Linked DNA regions of Homo sapiens. The protein of the gene in region 2 interacts with the protein of the main gene of each other region in a pairwise test. Each region holds a gene or a part of one and is shown on either strand. Other genes may lie near its edges.

What was found. Proteins that work in one complex are often made in the same cells at the same time.
Region 1: the proteins of PRKAR1A (region 2) and ZBED1 interact in binary tests that used the Homo sapiens proteins (3 or more experiments, as listed by UniProt).

What each region holds. Positions count from the first base shown.
Region 1 is NC_000023.11:2,489,674-2,498,999, forward strand, and holds part of ZBED1 (E3 SUMO-protein ligase ZBED1), read right to left. Parts: intron 1,100-9,326; 5' UTR 1,047-1,099; coding exon 1-1,046.
Region 2 is NC_000017.11:68,515,318-68,522,673, reverse strand, and holds part of PRKAR1A (cAMP-dependent protein kinase type I-alpha regulatory subunit), read right to left. Parts: intron 7,281-7,356; 5' UTR 7,275-7,280; coding exon 7,098-7,274; intron 1-7,097. UniProt on the Homo sapiens protein: Regulatory subunit of the cAMP-dependent protein kinases involved in cAMP signaling in cells.

The DNA.
Region 1 (9,326 bases), on a different chromosome or scaffold from region 2:
TTGCTCACCAGCATGCAGTGGGCCACGTTCTGCTGCTTCTGCTTCTCATAGAGCATGTACATGGCCACGGCAGACTGCTGGAAGTACTCCACCAGTTTGCGGCAGCGCGACAGCAGCGCCCCCAGCTTCGGGAGCTGGAAGGCCTGCTGGATGCCGGCATTGAAGGTGTGGCCCAGGCAGGGCATGTGCACTGCGACGTCCAGCAGGGAGCACGCCTTCACGATGTCCTTGCCATAGTTGGTGGTGGCCCCGAAGACCTTGGCGCTGATGCCCCACTCGATGAAGACCTCATAGAGCACTCGCGTGATGGTCTCCGCCGTGTTCTCTTCGGGCACCTCGAAGGTCTTCAGGCAGCGGGAGCCCATGGACAGGCAGTTGGGGGCGCCCAGGCCCAGGAAGTGGGCGGCCAGCGTGACGTAGGCGCGGTTCTGATTCTCACTCCTCCACATGTCGGTGGAGATGCCACACCAGGTGGCCTCGGCCAGCTCCTTCAGGATCACCTCCCGGACGGCCCCGTACTTCTCAGGGATGGCCTTGGTAGAGATGTACTTCCGGCTGGGCAGCTCATACCGGGGGTCGGCCGTCTTCAGCAGCACCTTGAAGGTGGGCTCGTCCACGATGGAGGCTGGGTACAGCCCCTCGCAGATGAGGCCCAGCACGGCGGCCGTCAGCTCCTGCTGCTTCTTGCTGTCGTAGCCGTGGCCGGCCTTGACGGCCAGCGCGTCCTGCCCGGGCTGCTGGGACGACTCGGGCTTCAGCTTGGAGAAGGCGGTGGCGAAGGCTTCACGCATCTGCTCCGTGTTGCTCTTGACGAACTCGCAGAATTCCTCGGGGTGGTTCTTCTCCAGGTGGTAGGACAGGTTGGAGGTGTTTCCGGAGTAGGCGATCTGGGCCATGCAGATGCGGCAGTAGATTTTCTTCCACTGCAGGATGCATCCCTCGGCGTTGGTGTCGAAGCCGAAATACTTCCACACCTTGCTCTTGGCGCGGGGGTGGGCCACCAGCTTCAGGTCTGTCTGGGAGCTCTCCAGGCTTTTATTCTCCATTGCTTCTCCACCGGAGCCTGCCTGCTGGACGGCTGCTCATGCGTGGGGACCTGCTGAGAAGGGCCAAGACAAACACAGCATGAGAAGGGACCCAGGCACGCACGGGAGCCCTGCCGGGGAGACAGACAGGGTGCCGGGGCAGCTCCGCTTTCAACCAAAGGGCACTGGGGCCGGACGGCTGGACCTTCCTTGCGGGTCACTTTTGCAGAGTGGAGGAGGGAACCTAGCGCAGGAATACGCTCTTTCTTCCACGTTAATCCGACTGCAGCGATGCCGCACGTGTCAACATACAGGTTTGCGAGTGAGCACGGCATTTTTGCAGGGCTGTACCTGACAAGTGCCTTTAGTTTTTTTTTTTTTTTTTTTTTGAGACAGAGTTTCGCTCTGTCACCCAGGCTGCAGTGCAATGGCGTGATCTCAGCTCACTGCAACCTCCGCCTCCCGGGTTCAAGCGATCTTCCTGCCTCAGCTTCCTCAGTAGCTGGGATCACAGGCACCTGCCATCACGCCTGGCTAATTTTTGTATTTTTAGTAGAGACAGGGTTTCACCATGTTGGTCAGGCTGGTCTCGAACTCCTGACTTCAGGTGATCCACCCGCCTTGGCCTCCCAAAGTGCTGGGATGACAGGCGTGAGTCACCGCGCCCAGCCTGACAATGCCTCTGTCATCGCAGGGGCTTGTTGTTCCTGTCCTAAGAGTTTCCCAAGCACCTGCCACGTGGGAAAGCTGCGTAGATCTTTTCTGGGGATGAAGCCTACATAGAAGAATCCACAAGTGGCCAGGCAGACCCCCCACTGCCAACCATCACAGCAGGACTCTCTGAATGCCACCTGAGCTTCATTCACTGCATTAAAGAAGCCAAACAGGACCTCCATCTGACTAAAGCCAGCTTTCCTATGGCTAAGAGGCACTGCACACTCTTCTCAAACTTTATGGTTTAAAATGAAGCCATGTGGAACGTCACAGGTGCATCCGTGATCTGTAAGCACGTCTGAAGAAGCATGGATTTCTCAATCCCTGGAACTTCTCAAAATGCCCATTGTGTCCAGTCACACCTGTGGGCAGAAAGGCCCAACTGGGCAAATATCACACACCTGTGCAAACATCAGGCAGTCGGTGTGGAGGCTTAGATGACCCAGAAGCCAGTCCCCAGGGTTCCTGTTGAGGTTGAATGCTCACACATACAGGCCCTTCCAGCTGCCACTCAGGAGGCCACCTCTGTGACTGGGTTGCCCAAAATGACAGCTGGGCTTTGTTAAAAGGTGTAATTGTGTCTCCAAGTGTCCAGTACAGTGCTCAGGAGGGTAAATATCAAAATGCACCACCCAGGCACGTTCAGAGTGTTGGGATACAGTCAGTGCAAGGAGGCATATTTCAATGATGACTATAGTGGGTTGAAAAGCGTCCTCCCCTACCAAAGAAAATCTGTATCCACCTGGTACTTGTGTATGGGACCTTGTTTGGAAAAAGGGTCTTTGCAGATGTATTAATAATGAAGGTAAGGATCTTTAGATGAGATTATTCTCAATTGAGGTGGTCCTAAATGCAGTGACCAGTGTCCTTAATAGAAGACAGATGAGGAGACACGGACACACAGGAGAAGACCACATGGAGACAGAGGCCGAGACTGGAGTGATGCGGCCACAAACCCAGAACGCCTGGAGCCCCCAGGAGCTGGGAGAGGCAGGAAGGATCCTCCTCTAGAGCCTCCACAATGAACTGGATAAAATCATGGTGGATTGAACAGTGGCCCGCAGAAAGATCTGTCCACAGCCTAAAGCCCAGGATGTGGAATGAGATCTTACTTGGTTATTAGAAATTTTGTAGATCTCATGAGTTAAGGATCTGGAGATGAGATCATCCGGGATTTGAGTGAGCCCTAAATGCAGTGACAGATGTCCTTATAAAAGACAGAAGAGGAGACACAGACACAGAGAAGGCCACATGGAGACAGAGGCAGAGACTAGAGTGATGATGTGGCTGGCCTGAAGCCCAGGGACGCCAGGAGCCCCCAGGAGCTGGGAGAGGCAGGAAGCACCCTCCGCGTAAGCCTCCGGAGGGAGCGCAGCCCTGAGACACTTTGATTACAGACTTCTGGCCTCCAGAACTGGGAGAGAATAAGCTATGGTTTTAAGCCCTCCGGTTTCTGGTACTTTATTAAAGCAAGGTATTCTGAAGGTTAATTTTGCCCGAAATAATGAGTGGAGGTCTTAGAAAGGCCCCCCGTCTTCACGGGCAGTCGCGGCCTGCGTTGCTGGCTTTCCGTCAACGGTGCCCGCCCAGTGCTTTTTAGGGAGACGCCGCCACGTGCCAGGTGAGCTGGGCATTGCCAGAGCCCAGCAGTGCCACTTCCCAAGACTGGGGTGCAAGGAGGGGGGTCCTGTGGCCAATGCCAGCACCCTGGTTTGTTCTAAGGTGCTGAGAGAATGAATAACATGACCGGGACTTCCACAAAACGAGGAACCCCCAAACTGCATCTTCTGCAGCCGAGTTAGGGTGGGGCCCCTGGATTACACAGTCAACGGAGGGGGAAAAGAATCTCAAGAGGCCTCCTAAGTCCGACCTGAGTGACAGGACACAGCTGTATCAGATCCTCCATCATCATCATCATCATATTATTATTTGGCTGAAACAGGTTTTGGTAATTGGGAGGAAAAGGTTTACATTCCATTATTATTATTTGTGCTATTGGGCTGAAAGAGGTCCCAGTCCTCAAACAAAAGTTTAAATTCTATTTATTATTATTATTATCATTATTATTATTATTATGTGGCTGAAAGCGGTTCTGGAACCTGAAGGAAAGGTTTCAATTCCATTATTATTATTATTTTTATTATTATGAAGATTAGGCTGGAAGAGGTCCCAGTACCAGTAACAAAGGTTTATATTCTAATTATTATTGTTACGGTTGTTATTATTATTAGGCTGAAAAAGGTCTCAGTACCTGTAGCAAAGATTTTTATGCTGGCACCAGGCACAGCGGCTCACGCCTGTACTCTCAGCACTTTGGGAGGCCAAGGTGGGTGGATCATCTGAGGTCAGGAGTTTGAGACCACCCTGGACAACATGGTGAAACCCCTCCTCTACTAAAAATACAAAATTAGCCGGGCGTGGTAGTGGCACATGCCTGTAGTCCCAGCTACTCGGGAGGCTGAGGCACGAGAATCGTTTGAACCCGGGAAGCAGAGGTTGCAGTGAGCCGAGATGGCGCCATTGCACTGTAGCCTGGGCAACAAGCGCAAAACTCCGTCTCAAAGAAAGAAGAAAACAAAAAAAAAGATATATATGCTATTATTACTATTGTTTTTAGGCTGGAAGAGGTCCCGATACCTGGAAGAAAAGTTTGTACTCGGTTATTATTATCTGTCTGAAAGAGGTCCTGAAAGCTGGAGCAAACATCCATATTCTATTATTATTATTATTATTGTGATTGTTTGACTGAAAGAAGTCCCAGTGCCTGGGGCCAAGGTTTATATTCTATTATCATTGCTGTTATTATTATTTGGCTGAAACAGGTCCTGGTACCTGTAGCAAAGGCTTATATTATTACATTATTATTATTATTAGGCTGGAAGAGGTCTCGACACCTGGAACAAAAATTTTCATTCTATCATTATTATTATTATTAGGCTGAAAGAGGTTCTAGAACCTGGAGCAAAGGTTTTTATTCTATTATTATTACTTTTGTTATTAGGCTGAAAGAGGTCCCAGTAACAGAACAAAAGTTTATATTCTATTTTATTACTATTTGGCTGAGAAAGGTGCCAGGACCTGTAGTAAAGGTTTATATTCTATGATTATTATTAGGCTGAAAGAAGTCCGGGTACCTGGAACAAAAGTTTATATTTTATTATTATTATTTAGCTGAAAAAGGTTCTGGCACTTCAGTCAAAGGTTTATGTTCTATTATTATCATTATTATTATTATTTGGCTCACAGGTGTCCCAGTACCTGGACCAAAGGTCTGTTTTCTATTAATACTATTCTTATTATTACTATTTGGCTGAAAAAAGGTTCTGGTACCTAGAGCCAAGTTTTATATTCCACTATTATTATTTGGTTGAAAGAGGTCCCAGTACCTAGAAGAAAAGTTTATATTCTATTATCATTATAATTATTATTACTGTCATTATTGTTGGTCTGAAAGAGGTCCTGGTACTGTGAACAAAGGTTTATATTCTATTATTATTCTTATTTGGCTGAAAGAGCTCCCAGGACCTGGAGCAAAGGTTTATATTCTATCATTATTATCATTATTACTACTGTTATTATTATTACTGGGCTGAAAGAGGTCACAGTACCCTGAACAAAGGTTTATATTCTATTGTCATTATTATTATTATTGTTATTATTTGGCTGAAAGACGTTCCAGGAGATGAAGCAAAGGTTTATATTCTATCATTATTATCATTATTACTATTATTATTATTATTACTGGGCTGAAAGAAGTCACAGTACCCTGAACAAAGGTTTATATTCTATTATCATTAATATTATTATTATTATTTGGCTGAAAGACGTTCCAGGACGTGAAGCAAAGGTTTATATTTTATCATTATTATCATTATTCCTATTGTTGTTATTATTATTGGGCTGAAAGACGCCCCAGTACCATGAACAAAGGTTTATATTCTATTATTATTAATATTATTGTTATTATTTAGGTGAACAAAGGTTTCTATTCTATTATGATGATCATCATTTGGCTGAAACAGGTCTAGTACCTGGAGTGAAGTTTTGTACTAAGAGCCAAAATTCCCAAACCCCTAACCAAGTGACTCCTGGAAGGAGAAACAAGAAGCTCCCTCCCACGTCTCCTGCTGTCAGAATTCCATGGGATTCCCAGGTAAAGAACCGTCCACACAGTAGGTGGGTTCCACCTGAACCCACGTAACAGCCACAGCAGAGCTGACCTTCTGCAGTGAGTACCCTCCTTCCTCCTTCCTCCTCCCTTGCAGCGCTTCCGAGCACACAAGGCCACGAATAAAGGTTGCTGTAAACCAGCCTCTCACTGCCTCATTCTTCAAGACTGGTGCAGCATCCCCAGTGCGGGGGGAGGGGGGTTTGGGGGGGACACTCCCCAAAACGCTCTCAGGGGGCCGGCGATTTCACGTTTCCAATTGCACATCCATGAGAGGCCAGTGGATGTGCCTCACATGACTCTTACCAGAACGACACGTCGCAAGAGACCAGTGTGAAGAAGCAGAGGAAGGAGCCAGCCGCCATCCGTCCCTTTATGGATGAGACTGACAAAACCCTAAAACTCAGCCACTCTTCTCCCTAGGTTTTTGTTATTTTGGAAATGACAATCATTTTTCTTTTAAAAAACATACAGCACATGGCCAAAGGGTACCAAGTTTCTGTTCGACAGGAGGAATCCGTTTCAGTGACCTACTGCACAGCGTGGTGGCGATAGTTAATAGTGTATTACATATTTCAAAATAGCTAAAAGAGGTTTTTATTTTTGTTTTTGTTTTTTTGTTTTTTTGGTTTTTTTGAGACGGAGTCTCGCCCTGTTGCCCAGGCTTGAGTGCAGTGGCGCAATCTTGGCTGACTGCAACCTCCACCTCCCAGGTTCACACCATTCTCCTGCCTCAGCCTCCCAAGTAGCTGGGACTACAGGCGCACACTGCCACACCCAGCTAATTTTTTGTATTTTAGTAGAGATGGGGTTCCACTGTATTGCCCAGACTGGTCTCAAACTCCTGAGCTCAGGCAATCCACCCGCCTCAGCCTCCCAAAGTGCTGGGATTATAGGCATGAGCCACCGCACCCGGCCCGCCAATAGAGATTTTAAATGTCTTGCGTGCAGTGTATACTGCTTGGGTGATGGGTGCACCAGAATCTCACAAATCACCACTAAAAAACTTACTCATGGAATCAAACACCACCTGTTCCCCAATAACCTATGGAAATAAAAAACAAAAATAGCTAAAAGAGATTTTAAATGTTCCCACCGCAAAGGAAAAATAGCGGGTGATAGATATTAGTTTAATTATTCCACAATGCAAACATACAGCAAAGCATCACACTGTGCCCCATAAGTGTACACATTTATATATTTATATAAAAATATCAATTGTTTTTATTTACATCTAAATTATATAAATATAACTTATTTGTATTTTATATTTATAGAAAAGTATAAATTATTCTAAAAATATATATATTTAATAAAAATAAAATATAAAAACAATAAATATATTACATACATTTTTGTATGTAACATGTAATTGGCCTGTTACCATTACTTTTAAATAGATTGTTAAATATGTTTTAAATTTCTGTTTTAATGTCTAACAGGATGACTTATTGACTGTTATAATCCACAAAAACAAAAACTGTCTGGGGTCCTCATTTTTTTTGAAAGAGATTCTATGATCAAGGAATTGGAGGCCGGGGGCAGGGGCTCACCCCTGTAATCCCAGCAATTTGGGATGCCAAGGTGGACTATCACCTGAGGTCAGGAGTTTGAGACCAGCCTGACCAACATGGAGAAACCCCATCTCACTAAAAATACAAAATGAGCCAGGCATGGTGGCACATGCCTGTAATCCCAGCTACTCGGGAGGCTGAGGCAGGAGAATCGCTTGAACCCGGGAGGCAGAGGTTGTGGTGAGCTGAGATCACGCCATTGCACTCCAGCCTGGGAAACAAAAGCGAAACTTGGTCTCAAGAAAAAGAAGAAGAAGTTGGAAAACTGCTGTTTTTACTTCTACCTGATTTCTAATAGCCACTGTTCACTACTCATAAAACCAACAAGAATTAACTTTCCCTTTACAGGTTAAAAAAAAAATAGTTTGAAAAGTAGGACTTCTATAAATAGCTTTGTAAGTGGGCCAGTTGGCATATTTTTTGTAAATACTCACTCCTGTGGTACAGCATTTACGAATCCATTTTGCATCCCAGAAAGTGAAGGAATATTCTGTGGCCTATTATTTACAATAGAACTTTTAAGAAAAATTCTGTGGCAGTATTGGAACTGGACTTGACTACAGGTACCATCAATTTTCTCTCCTTTGCAAAACTCATTGATGTATCAGAGAAAATGTAATTTCTAAACAGATCACCCTGTTATTAATACCGGTGGGTAGAGACTTTCTTTACTCAATATGATCATTTTCAACAGATTTCAGGCCATATCAATGTTCAAGTTTTGATGCCATATTAGGATATTAAATGCACTGATTAAATCATCTATTTTAAAATCCAACCAACAGATACAACTTACTGAATGGGCCGCATGGATATAGTCTTAAGAACACAGAGACAGACCCTCTTATGGGAATTCTCAATTTGCTTCTAAACCCCCTCTGTAAAGGCATGACCAACATCTATGATTAATTTGTAATTATCTTGTTTTTCCATGATGAACTGTAAGAAGACACCATTTAGGAGTGGATTCCAGCCACAATTTCTTCCTTCTCATACCATGTAAGTCAACTCATGTGGAAGGTGTAACCCAGGCATTTCCTTTGTACGATACCTAAGAAGAACACGCTCCATTTGGAAGTTCTAAGAAAAAACTGCCCTTGCTTCCAATCTGCAGTGGGGAAATTGGCCCTCTTGGTTATTCAAACAGCTTAGCTCAAATGCCCTGGACAAAGTTCAATGTTTCCTCACCAACAGCGAAGGCCTACCAGAGAGAAGCAAATAAAAAATGCCGTTTAGGAAGCTGGCCACCAGCAGACCAAGGACAACAGCATTCCTCCACTGGTATCGAAAATTATTTTTAATCCATACATAGGAAGGGGCTCGATGAGGGCAAGCCACTTAAGTTAATCTTTAGAGAAGGCCATTCTGTTTCGATACACACCCGGGTACAGATTCCCTTGGCAGACACGTGACTTCACCAGAAGCTCGTCCTCTTTAACAACCTTCTGTTGTTGTTTAATCAGTAAATGGGAAAAAAAAAAAAAAAAAAGATTCCAGCCCTTTTTCTAATGCACAAAGAGCAAGTTTTTCAAAGGCCAGCATTTTGGTGAGCTGCTGCAGGAACCCCGGCCTCTTCTGCCAGGGCCCACACAGGCCCTTAAGGAGGTTTAAGGGGACCTTTCTGTAAGCAAAACTGCCCGGATAAACATAATCTTCTGCGAGACTCCACACAATTGTTCAGCAGCTGTAAACCGTTCACCTTGCAACTGATTACTTACTTCAAACAAACATGCTCTCCTGCCCTCCGAAAGCCTGACTACAGTTCCCTTTACTCTCCTTCTTCTATGCATTTGTAATTATGCTAAGTGGGTTTAAAAAAAAATACTGAAGGCCAGTTTGGCAGAA
Region 2 (7,356 bases):
AGTCACTTCCAATCTCTTCTTCCATTAACAATGTAAGTTAAGAGGAAAACACCAATTCCAAAGGGGAAAAAAAGAGAGTAACACTTGAAACACTCTCAACAGAATGTACCTCAGATGATAACAGATGCTATCCTTTATTAATGGGCAAAAGTCATTAGTACAAGCCATTAGTACTCACATAACATGTGAGTAACAAATCAGATATTCATTAATGTCTTGACAACAATTATCTGTGATGCACACAACAGTAACACACTGCAAGACAAAATCCTGAAAATTGGGTTTTTTTGGATGCTACTGCAGATAGCAAGAGACCCTCCTGCCAAAAGAAATGTTATCAGGAAAAACAATTCAAGCCCAACATAGTGATCCAAGAATGTCTAGATTACTGAGTTATTTCATTAACTCAATAAGCCATTTTCTGGATCTGCCAGGCCAAGACCTATGCTAGGCAACAGGAAATTAAAAACAAATAGGAGAGGGTCCTGAGCCTGTGGAATTCACATTCCAGTTTGATCCCAGATAAAAACAAATAATGAAATGATGTGATGGTAACCACGAATTTAAACGAGATCGTATCTATAATACTTCTCCCAGCAGAGCTAGGATCACTCTTTGTAATCAAGGTTTAAACTTGAAGTTAAAAGACAAAAAGAGTTTACTTGCTTTTAAAAACTACTTATTGGACCAATTCAAATAAAACCTAAGATAAACTATTAAACATTCCTTTTTTCACATCTAGAGCCTTAAAAACAAATTCCTCTCAGATCTAAAGAATTAGTTGTTGTGCCTGAAGTAAAAGGGAAAAAATAAAAATGTGTTATCTTCTACTTTCTCATTCATTTGACCCGTTATTTCTTTTCTATATATAAATTTGTAAGTGCCCATATATTAATCTCCAGAACATTGGCAGCATTCAAGAAAAGCAATGGCGTGGGAGGGAGACCTTTCATTATTATGCCCCTTTGTACCTGCACAACTTTGAAATATGTGAATATGTAACCTACTTTTTAAAATATGGTTTTTAGAAAACTCATTTCATGTTAATTCTGGTTGTTCCAATAACCAGTAAGGTTTTCTCATTTCATATTAACACAGGTATAAAACTCAAGTCTCTCCCAAGTTTAAAGTTTAAGAATACATGACTGGGTACAGTGGCTTACGCCTATAATCACAACCCTTTGGGAGGCCGAAGGTGGCAGATCACTTGAGTCCAGGAGTTCGAGACCCGCCTAGGCAACATTGTAAAACCTCATCTCTACAAAAACACATAAAAATTAGTTGGGCGTGGTGGCACACACCTGTAGTCCCAGCTACTTGGGAAGCTGAGGCAGGAGGATCACCTGAGCCTGGAAGGTAGAGACTGCAGTGAGCCATGATCGCACCACTGCACTCAGGCCTGGGCAACAGAGTGAGATCCTGTCTCAAAAAATAGGCCAGGCATGGTGGCTCACACCTGTAATCCCAACACTTCGGGAGGCCAAGGTGGGCAGACCACAAGGTCAGGAGTTCAAGACCAGACTGGCCATTATGGTGAAACCCCATCTCTACTAAAAATACAAAAATTAGCCAGGTGTGGTGGCAGGCACCTGTAGCCCCAGCTACTCAGGAGGCAGAGGCAGGAGAATCGCCTGAACCCAGGAGGCAGAGGTTGCAGTGAGCCGAGATTGCACCACTGCAGTCCAGCCTGGGTGACAGAGCAAGACTGTCTCAAAAAAATAATAATAAAAATAAAATAAAACACACACACAGTTTAAGAGTATAAATGAAAACACAAATTCTCCCACCCCCAAATTTGTCACTGACATTTCACAAAAATTTCAGGAAAAATTTCACAAATAACATTTCACTTGGGACTACATTCTACTTCACTGAATTTTTAAGATTAATTTTGAAGTAACAAAAGCATTCTGATTTTAGCAGTGTCTCATGGATTCTAGTGAGTCTTTTAAAAACAGCAATCTGAATATAACCTAATCTGACAACTCAGAGCCATTACTCAGATCATGAGTTTTCTAGTATATACTATGATATATTTTTATATCCTTTCTCTTGCTGTTGTCATCCTTCTGTCAGTCTCCTTCCTCCTCAGCTCTTTAAGTGAGGTGATGAATAACCTAAATACCTTGACGTGATCATTACACATTCTATGCCTGTAAAATATCACATGTACTCCATAAAAACATACAAATGTTATATATCAATAAAAAATTAAAAATTAGAAAAAACCTCCCAGTCTACTCAGTGGTTAATTATGTTCTTGACTCTGAGGTTCAAATTCTGCATTCGGTTTTGCATTAAATTCTGCACTATCTTCTTGACTCTTAGGTTCAAATTCTGTCCCCACTACTATGTTTTCCCGATTATTTGTTCCCTCCCTGCTTCTGTCACTCTTCCCTGTGGGTAAAGTATACTTCCCACCCCACTGACTTAAGGCTTGGCTACAGGACTTGCTCTGGCCATGGAATGTAAGTGGACATGCCATACCATGGTTGCCTGTGTGGTTTGGCTCTGTCCACCTTGAGCTTCTGCCCTCCCTCTGCTTTGAGAACAGCATGCCCTATATAGGGCTGCTCCTTCTGCTCAGCCCCAGAACAAGATATGTGGTGTCAAGAACATAAGACAGGCTGATACCAGAAGAACTGCACATGACTGGTCTGTTGTAGTAACCACTGAAATTTGGGGGTTGTATGTTGCTCCAGCAAAAGCTGACGACTACAGTCTATAACCACAGCCACATTACTTAATTTCTCTCAGTTTTACTGCTATGTCTATAAAATGCTGAAAATCACATACCTCGTACATTTGAAATAACGAGTATTTATGTATATAAAGTGCTTCACACAGTACCTGACACAGCAGACACAAGGTCACTGTTATTTTAATTCCTCTTACCTAAGGGTCTAATAAATACAAGAGTAAAAGAAGACTCAAATTCCAGATGACTGAATTAAAATGCAGAAGCTTTCAAAAGACCAACTGTCAAGAGTTTTTGGTACATTTCTTATGGAGTAGTTGAAGGTAACAGAAACACAACCCCCCAGTAATGACGAAGAAGGTGATGAGAATATGACTGTATTTTCAGACTGATATGGTTTGGCTGTGTCCCCACCCAAATCTCATCTTGAATTATAGTTCCCATAATCCCCACATATTGTGGGAGGGACCTGGTGGGAGGTAATTTAATCACAGGGGTGGTTACCTCCATGCTGTTCTGGTGATAGTGAGCTCTCATGACATCTGACAGTTTTGAGGGGCTTTTCCCCCTTTTGCTTGACCCTTCTCCTTGCTGCTGCCATGTGAAGAAGAATGTGTTTGCTTCCCCTTCTGCCATGATTGTAGCTTCCCGAGGCCTGCCCAGCCATGAGGAACTGTGAGTCAAACCACTTTCCTTTATAAATTACCCAGTCTTGGGTATGTCTTTTATTAGCAGCATGAGAACAGACTAATACAGTAAAATGGTACACAGAGCGTGGGGTGCTGTTACAAGGATACCCAAAAATGCAGAAGCAACTTTGGAACTGGGTAACAGGAAGAGGGTGGAACAGTCTGGAGGGCTCAGAAGAAGACAGGAAAATGTGGGAAAGTTTGGAACTTCCTAGAGATTTCTTGTACGGCTTTGACCAAAATGCTGATAGTAATATGGACAATGAAGTCCAGGCTAAGGTGGTCTCAGATGGAGATGAGGAACTTGAGAACTGGAGTAAAGGTGACTCTCGCTATGCAAAGAGACTGGCAGTATTTTGGCCCTGCCCTAGAAATCTGTGGAACTTTGAACTTGAGAGAAATGATTTAGGGTATCCGGTGGAAGAAATTTCTAAGCAGGAAAGCATTCAAGAGGAAGCAGAGCTTGAAAAATTTGCAGCCTGACAAAGCAATAGAAAAGAAAATCCCATTTTCTGGGGAGAAATTCAAGCCTGCCGCAGAAATTCACATAAGTAACAAGGAGCCAAATGTTAATCACCAAGACAATGGGGAAAATGTCTCCAGGGCATGTCACAGACCTTCAGGACAGCCCCTCCCATCATAGGCCCAGAGGCCTAGGAGGGGAAAATGGTTTCCTAGGCCATGCCCTGGGGCTCCTGTACTATGCAGCCTCAGGACATGGTACCCTGCGTTCCAGCTGCTTCAGCTCCAGTCTTGGCTAAAAGGTACAGCTCTGGCCATTACTTCAGAGAGTGCAAGCCCCAAGCCCTGGTGGCTTACAAGTGGTGCTGGGCCTGTGGGTGCACAGAAGTCAAGAACTGAGGTTTGGGAACCTCCCCCTAGATTTCAGAAGATGTACAGAAATGCCTGGATGCCCAGACAGAAGTTTGCTGCAGGGGCGTGGCCCTCCTGGAGAACCTCTGCTAGGGCAGTGCGGAAGGGAAATGTGGGGTCGTTTGGAGCCCCCACACCGAGTCCCCACTGCAGCACTGCCTAATGGAACTACGAGAAGAGGGCCACTATCCTCCAGACTCCAGAATGGTAGATCCACCAACAGATTGCACCATGCACCTGGAAAAGCAACAGACTCTCAATGCCTGCCCATGGAAGCAGCCAGGAGGGGGGCTGTACCCTGCAAAGCCACAGGGGCGGAGCTGCCCAAGGCCACGGGAGCCCACCTCTTGCATCAGTGTGCCCTGAATGTGAGACATGGAGTCAAAGGAGATCCTTTTGCAACTTTAAGATTTAATTACTGCCTCGTTGGATTTCGGATTTGCACGGGGTCTATACTCCCCTTGTTTTGACCAAGTTCTCCCATTTGGAATGGGTGTTATCTACCCAATGACCCCAGGAAGTAACTAACTTGCTTCTGATTTTACAGGCTCATAGGTGGAAGGGACTTGCCTTGCCTCAGATGAGACTTTGGACTTGAACTTTTGAGTTAATGCTGGAATGAGTTAAGACTCTGAGGGACTGTTGGAAAGGCATGACTGTGTTTCAAAATGTGAAAACATGAGATCTGGGAGGGGCCAGAGGTGGAATGATATGGTTTGGCTGTGTCCACACCCAAATCTCATCTTGAATTGCAGTTCCCATAATCCCTATGTGCCCTGAGAGGGACCTGGTGGGAGGTAACTTAATCATGGCAGGGGGGTTACCCTCATGCTGTTATCATGATAGTGAGTGAGTCCTCACGATAGCTGACGGTTTCATAAGGGACTTTTCCCATTTTGCTCTGTACTTCTCCTTGCTGCTGCCATGTGAAGAGGATGGGTTTGCTTCTCCTTCTGCCATGATTGTAAGTTTCCTGAGGCCTCCCCAGCCATGCTGAATTGTGAGTCAATTAAACCTCTTTCCTTTATGAATTACCCAGCCTCGGTATGTCTTTATTAGCAGCATGACAACGGACTAATAGACTAACATACAAATTAACACCTAATACACAGAACTATGACCCACTAACAAGTTGAAAATCTAATTACTTAAAGGTCCAGGTATCTATATTCAACCCTGGAAGGAATGTATACATGTGAACAAAGACCCTTGAATTACAGCAAAAACCATGTTGAACTGTGACTTTAATTATTAAAAGTTAAAGAAGCTGAAACACATTAAATCTAAAAATTCCATCTGCAAAGAAACCATTTTAATAATTATTTATTGCTTTCCACCTTTGTTAGTCTTTAAACAGTACTGTGGCAACTACAAGCTTTGAAACTAGCATCACACATTCAACACTCCCTATAAAAAGATACACACTTAATGTCTCACCAACTTAATCCTCTCATTTGATGGTTTCTATTGATGTCCAAAGAAGAGGGATCACCTTACAGTGACCCATTTCAAAACCGGATCTCCAGGAATGCACTTGACTTCAAAACAAGCTACATCTATGACCTGGCTCTACAATACTTCCATGATTTGGAAATTGCATAAATAAGAGAAAGCCAGAATATCTACTATAATTCCAAGACAGCAAAGCAACATTCACAGTGACTAGTTGTTTTTGTTTTTTTTTTAATTATTCTGATCATGGTACTAAATACAAATTTTAACAATCAGTTTTTAAAGAAAATAGAAAATACCTGATCAATGAGCTACCCAAATACTTTTTAAAGCTTAGTACAGATTCTTTTACTAATAAACTATACTGATTATAAGAAACTATAAAAACCAATGGAAAATAAAGCAAATTATTTCTATTATACAATTAGATAATCATATACCAAAAGAAATGATTCATTTCTTTTGGTATATGAATCATTTCTTTTGGTATATGATTCATTTCAATTAATTCATAATCATTATGAACCACCTCATAACTTCCACATGCACAAGAAAATCAGTAAGTTTCTCTCACTGATTTACAGAAGCGAATCACATAAACTATTCAAAATATTTGGTAACCCAGACTTTTTCATTCATCGTTTCTTGAGGGAGATGAATTGAAGCATTCATTTGCTTCAATTATCCCTGATGTAAAATTATCACTTTGCTTAGAAAAACATATGCCATATACGTAGGTCACAATGACATACAAGCAAGGAGGAAGAGCAAAAAAGAATAAAAATTGGATTAATTTTTTTCAAGGCGCAACAAGTCCTGACCAATAAAATGGAGTAAAATTTTTGAGGAACATCAATATCAATATCTCTACAGTAATTTATCAGATATACTCTATACTAAAATAGACCGAATCTAATTGAAAATTTCTGATATATCAGTCACAAGCTAGATTCATGTTTCATTACACTAGTTTTAAAAGTGGGATAAGATTTACTACGCTTACTTGCTTTGTTCAAAACGGGAGGAGCATTAACTGCCTTTAAGAACTATAGAATTTCTTATTCATAGAACTGCTATACTAGTTCTGATCAGTTTTATCTGTTATAGTTCTACGCACTAATTTAAAAAGTTACAAAGAATTGTTTGGAAACCCTTTATTAGCCAAGTACAGTTAGCATACAGGTTCATTTTTCTGATAAATTCTACTAATTAAGAATTTTTAAATTACTACAAATGCCTTAACTGTATTTCTTATTTGAAATTGTTTTAGACTTTTTATTTAGTCAGATTCCTTTTCTTCCAAAAAATACAAATTAGTAACATTCCAGTTATTAAATGTAACAACTGTCACAATCACCTCATCATCTCCCCACATTTATTTTTACCTTCTCCAACCTCTCAAAGTATTCCCTGAGGAATGCCATGGGTCTCTCAGGTCGAGCAGTGCACAACTGCACAATAGAATCTTTGAGCAGCGCTTGAATGTTATGCTTCTGGACGTAGAGCTCACATTCTCGAAGGCTGCGTGCCTCCTCACTGGCGGCGGTACTGCCAGACTCCATGGTTCTCTGCGAGAAAAAAACACACACATGCTTGTATAAACTATAAAGCAAAATGTCAATCTGGCATTTAACTTGCTAAATT